Linked DNA regions of Homo sapiens. The protein of the gene in region 2 interacts with the protein of the main gene of each other region in a pairwise test. Each region holds a gene or a part of one and is shown on either strand. Other genes may lie near its edges.

Evidence for each region. The genes of interacting proteins can lie anywhere in the genome.
Region 1: the proteins of PICALM (region 2) and NECAB1 interact in a two-hybrid assay, tested with the Homo sapiens proteins (one large-scale study listed by IntAct).

The regions. Positions count from the first base shown.
Region 1 is NC_000008.11:90,952,275-90,955,774, reverse strand, and holds part of NECAB1 (N-terminal EF-hand calcium-binding protein 1), read right to left. Parts: intron 1,832-3,500; exon of another isoform or gene 1,789-1,831; intron 289-1,788; coding exon 263-288; coding exon of another isoform or gene 207-262; 3' UTR 1-206.
Region 2 is NC_000011.10:85,958,630-85,961,422, reverse strand, and holds part of PICALM (phosphatidylinositol-binding clathrin assembly protein), read left to right. Parts: intron 1-645; coding exon of another isoform or gene 646-738; exon of another isoform or gene 739-748; intron 749-2,362; coding exon 2,363-2,377; 3' UTR 2,378-2,793. UniProt on the Homo sapiens protein: Cytoplasmic adapter protein that plays a critical role in clathrin-mediated endocytosis which is important in processes such as internalization of cell receptors, synaptic transmission or removal of apoptotic cells.

The sequences.
Region 1 (3,500 bases), on a different chromosome or scaffold from region 2:
GTCACTAAAAGGTTTTAGGTGAGTTACAATGTAGCAAAGCATTTAGCATTAAATATTGAGAATATTAGTGAACTTTGAAAATTGAGCTAAAATTCACATGAATTGATAAAGTTATAGAATAAGTTTTGAAAGAGTGCACTTAGTAAATATACCAAACAAAAATATACAGTAGATTAACAACCGCAGATAATTTTCTAATTGACGTTTTAGATAAGAACACCTGTTTTGCACTTGGAACCATAAAGAAAATGTCTAGGAACATCTAGTTGTTCAGGATCCACCACGAAGCTGAAAAGAGAAAAATGTTTTCTAAAATAATGAAAATAACTTATAGGGCAAAGAACATTCAAGGTGCAAATTATTTCTAAAGAGACCATTCCCCTTACCTTTAGTCTGCATAATAACTTATCTTTCTAGTCACCATTTCCTGACTATTTGAGGCAAGATTGAACTCTTCCTATGCACTTGTTATTTGTACCATACCTTTTGGCACTTTGTTGCAGTCTAAAATTTTCTGTTCTATGTGAATAGAACTTGTTTTGGCAACAAGTTTATAAATGCACTGAAGACAGAATCATGCTATTGTTCTTATTAGAATCTACCCAACACTGGCAGTAGTTAGGCCATATATATATATATATATATATATATATATATATATAATTTATATACCCAATATTTATGAAATCCTATATGTAGAAATACCATATATTTATACATATGTACATACATGCACCTGCATTTATATATGTATATACATATATGCATATGTGTACATATACATACATATATGTACACACATAATATATACATATAATATGTATACATGTATGTATACATATAATACATATGCATTTGTATACACATACATATATGCATATGCATACACATAATATACATATATGCATATGTATACATATATTTATAAATATATGCAGCTTATGTATAATATATAATATACATATAAATACATGTGTGATTTATTATACATATATTTATACCTATATGATATTTATAAATACCATATATTTATACACATAGGATCTCATAAATATTGGGTATAAGCAAGTAGGTTATAAATAATATTTTAGTATATCTGTATGTTAAAATTATAAATGTTTATCCCAGTGAATATAGATATCCTGAAAACAAACCAATGGCAAAGATGTATGATTGGTGGAATGCTGTAAGAAACAGATAAATGGAAAGGATTGAAATTTGCTTTCAAAACTGTTCAAGTAATTTGCTGGCAATAGGATCTTTTTTTTTGTATCCTGTTTTCCCATAACCGTAGGTTTTTCTGTTATTACCAATGGACATTCTGCTCCACAGACCAAGTTTATATACTCCTTTTGTCTGGGTGGTTTGGGCTGCCATATTCCAGTATGCTTCATTTGAATGATTTTATACTTGAGAGGTCATTGGAATATATTATAGTGTATATTTTCATATCTGGATGCAATCTGGCTTAGTTGCTTAATTACTTTAGATGTATCTTAGGTAAACCACTTAGTAGTCTTAACCATAAAAAGCAATCTTACCAGAAATCATAATTTGTGAGTAAAATTAGAAATACAAACTTATTCATACTGCATTTTTAAATGTAATATCTGCTTTTTTTCTTTCAGATTTTAATTTTAGGTATAAATATGTGCAGCTATTTATTTATTTATTTATTTATTTATTTATTTATTTATTTATTTATTTTGAGACAGTCTCGTTCTGTCACCCAGGCTGGAGTGCACTGGCACGAACTCAGTTCACTGCAACCTCTGCCTCCCAGGTTCAAGTGAGTCTCCTGCATCAGCCTACCAAGTAGCTGGGATTACAGGTATGCACCACCATGCCTGGCTAATTTTTTGTATTTTTTAGTAAAGAGAGGATTTCACCATATTGGCCACTGGTCTCGATCTCCTGTCCTCAGGTCATCTGCCCACCTTCGCCTCCCAAAGTGCTGGGATTACAGGCGTGAGCCATAGCGCCCAGCTAATTATTTTTATTTTTAATCTTCATAACCATTATAACACAAAATGTACAAAACTGGTTTTTAAAAATAGTGTTAGAAGTTATATGGCCATTAAAACCCATAAATAATATTTATATGCTAGCTTCTGCTTACTGGAATAGGCCTGCTGTCACAGTGATAAAACTTTAAAATAAGGTGGGATGTCCCAATAAATGTCAAAATGTTGTAGGTTTTAAAATTGTGTCAAAAATCAAGCCTAACTTTTCCTCTTGTTCTACGAAATTCCAGTAATCATTGTTGAAATTAAATGTAACATGAAATTAATACAAAATAGGGCAGCAATTAAAAGACATTAAATTGTATTGAGCCTGGATTCACAGAACAAGAATTGATCCAGTTTTATCTGTAGTCAGTTTTTCTTTCTAAATTAGGAAATGCTCTGAGAGAGAAAGAGTAATATATGTGCCAATGACACTAGTAGTGTCTAGAAAATAATTCCAGATAATGATAAAGTTGGGTCAGAAAACTATCAGATTAGTCCACATTTTCAATTCTTGCTATAGCATTTTCCCCCTCACTGATAATTCAGTAGCCTCCTGTTCTATCCTCTTTTCCTACTCTATTTTTGATCAGGTTGTTTCTGTCCTGGAAAGACTCAAGACACTAATAAGAACAAGCTTTGTTCCTTTCTTTCCACATTGGTTTGGGAGAGATGGAAATGGGTGTGATGACAGACACAAAAATTACAAGTGTCAGGACTTCGTGGAAATTTTGACCGAAGACCAATATATTTATGATGATGCCAAAGTCCTATTCATTCCTTCATTTAGGAAATAATTTCTTCTTGCCATATACTGTACTATAGTAATACTGTAATAGGGTAGGGAATGTGAAGATAAATAAAATGTGGATCTCACTTTCCTGCATTCTATGTACAAAGCTTGCAGCAGTCATATTTACAGAAGTTGTATTCTAAGATTTTTCTCCCTATTTTATTTTATTTTATTTTAATTTTATTATTATTGTTTTTTGACATGGAGTCTCGCTCTGTCGCCCAGTCTGGAGTGCAGTGGTGCGATCTTGGCTCACTGCAACCCTCCGCCTCCTGGGTTCAAGCAATTCTCCTGCCTCAGCCTCCTGAGCAGCTAGGATTACAGGCATGCCCCACCATGCCCAGCTACTTTTTGTATTTTTAGTAGAGGTGGGGTTTCACCATGTTGGTCAGGCTGGTTTCGAGCTCCTGGCCTTGTGATCCGCCCACCTCAGCCTCCCAAAGTGCTGGGATTACAGGCGTGAGCCACCGCGCCCAGCCTTCCTCCCATTTATAACATCATAACACTATACATCCCCCACTCATCCCCAGGAGCACTGTATCTTTGCATTTTACTCTTTTGGTTTCCTTGATACTCCACTGCTTAAAGAAAGGCATCTCCCCAAGCTTCTCTTAGATATTTTGTTCTTACCTACATACTTTCTTACCAATCCCAGGCTTCAACAATCATCTTGCTGTGGTTAACTCCTGAAAATTACATCT
Region 2 (2,793 bases):
TCTTAAGTATTCCCCATATTCAGGGCAGTATGTGGACAGTTACAGTAGGTGACCTCTAAGGTCCCTTTCACCTCCCACAGTACGTGTGTCAGCTGCAGTTCGTCAAGATAAATGAGCAGGAGACAACTTCGTGTAAAAAGTGTGTGAACCTAGGACAGGACTTTTCGACCCTTATGAAGAAAGAAAGGAAAGAATATTGCAGCTAGATGTGTTGGGTCCGGACTGAGGTCAGAGTTGCACAGCTTTGGACAGATAGCCTGGACACAGGAAACCATGTTCTCTCAATTTTAAACAAAAATGCAATTATGTATTCCCTCCCCTATCCCCCCACCACCCCCCATACACACATTAAAATTCTTAACCATGGGTCAGCTTATATCGACCTTTTGGGTAAAAGACATTATTCCTTTGAAACTTCAGAAGCACGAGTTTGTTTTCTGAAAAACACATGCCATTGCATACCTTTTAACTTGACATATGACTGAAACTTTTGTCTTAACAATCCATTTTCTACAAAGACTGCCCTTATATTTATTAAAGATGACAAAACCAAAACCACTTCTTCTTTCATACATTTTCTGCTTTCATGTTCTGTCATTCTGAGATCTTTTTTTCTTTCCCTCTCTCTGTCTTCTTTTCCCCCAGCTGTCGGCAGCATCCAGCCCCTCCAGTCACAGTCCTCACAGAGCTTCAGGAAAGGACCCCTTTGCAGAGCTCTCTTTGGAGGATTTCTTATAAATCACTTTAGGTATTGCTACTTGTTTTGGGAGATGGGGACTTAAATACTTAAAAACAATTACCAAACATTAAACACAATTCACGCTTCTCTTTCATTTCTTTAAAGGACTCTAGGCTCCCTCTCCTCCTCCTCCTCTTCCTCTATTCTTTAGGTGCAGAATGAAAAGATAGGACATAAGGAAAAACAACTTTTGGAAAATATCTGTAACATAATTATTTAAAGTAATCTCATCCACTGCTCACAGTAAATGGATGAGATCGGATAAAGTTTGCTTTTTAATTAAGGGCAAGTGAATACTTAAGCCCTTTCGATTAGAAGGATTCTGCATATGATCCACACTGCCTCTGTTTGCTGGAAGACAGTGTAATTTGTTCTTCTTGATGCTCTAGCCCCCAGTTTAGATATACCTTCTAGATCTTTGGGAGTTTATAGTCTTCTGATTTGGCAAGTTTATTAGCACATCTACTTCAGTAATCTTTGGATGGGCAGTTTAAGGGAAATTGTGAGTGAAATATCTTTGAATGAACAGTAGTACCCTATTGAAAAATATTTTTATGGCTCTTTCAGGTTCTTATTTATGTTAATAAAAAGACTTAGTATAATATTACTGTTCCCTTTATTGTCTCTAATTGTATATCATTTGGAAATAATATTTCAAATTTTGCTTCCCAAATGAGATTTTGCTTGTGGTATTTGTGCTTATGGAGAGATTTTTCTGAACTTGTCATGAAAAAATAGGTCATTGATCTTCTTTCTTTTCCTCCTCCACATGCTATTCCTCTATTTTTAGCAGTTAAGTATTTGGCCTGGATGTGGTTGCTTATGCCTGTAATCCCAGCACCCTGGGAGGCTGATGCGGGAGGATCACTTGGGGCTAGTAGTTCAAGATCAGCCTGGGCAATACGGTGAGACCCTAGTCTCTACCCCCACCCAAAAATTACCCAGGTGTGGTGGCGACTGTCTGCAGTCCTAGCTATTCAGGAGGCTGAGGCAGGAGGGTTGCTTGAGCCCAGGAGTTCCAATGAGCTTTTTTTTTTTTTTTTTTTTTTTGAGATGGAGTTTCGCTCTTGTCTCCCAGGCTGGAGTGCAGTGGCACGATCTCAGCTCACTGCAACCTCCACCTCCTGGGTTCAAGCCATTCTCCTGCCTCAGCCTCCCGAGTAGCTAGGATTACAGGCGCCCGCCACCACGCCTGGCTAATTTTTGTATTTTTAGTAGAGACGGGGTTTCACCATATTGGCCAGGCCAGTCTCGAACTCTCGAACTCACCTCAGGTGATCTGCCCACCTCAGCCTCCCAGAGTGCTGGGATTACAGGTGTGAGCTATGGTGCCCAGCCATTGAGCTTTGATCATGCCACTGCAATCCAGCCTAGACAGCAGAGCAAGACTCTGTCTCAAAAACAACAACAAAAAACATTATTTGGAAGTCCCTATATGTGTCAAATATTGAGCTTTCTGGCACATAAGTTGATAATACTGACTTTGTTTTATAAACAGGGTTTGTGATAAGCATGTTGTGAACACTTCTGGGCCAGTTAAATGGTAAAGACCACAAAGCATTTTTATTTATGAGAAGACATCCTACAATACAATGAATTAACATACCCACTTTTTTTTTCCAGATACAGTTTATGTAACTTGATGGAAGAAAATGGAATTACTCCAAAAAGACAAGTGCTCAAGCAGCAAAATCCTTACTTCCAGCAAAATCCAAACTGCTGTCTCTTAAATCTCTTAAACTCTCTTCTTCCATTAGAATGCTACAAGTAACTCAGTGAAGGCCCATGAAGGAAATTGGGACTAGTTTATAGGAGAACGTATCAATACAGTTTATAAAGCCAAGAATTGCTATGATTTAAGACTAAGATCTGTCTTTTTGGTGACTAACCCTTCAATTCTTTCAACTCCTGTTAATACCCATAATCAGTAACCTATCAAGAAAAGCCCTTATTTGGAAAGTGTGAAATTTGTATTTGGAAAAGCTGCCTGGAGAGAAGAACTGTGTCCTTTACTGTATTTCAACAGGACTCTTTTGGGGGATCAAAATTAAAAT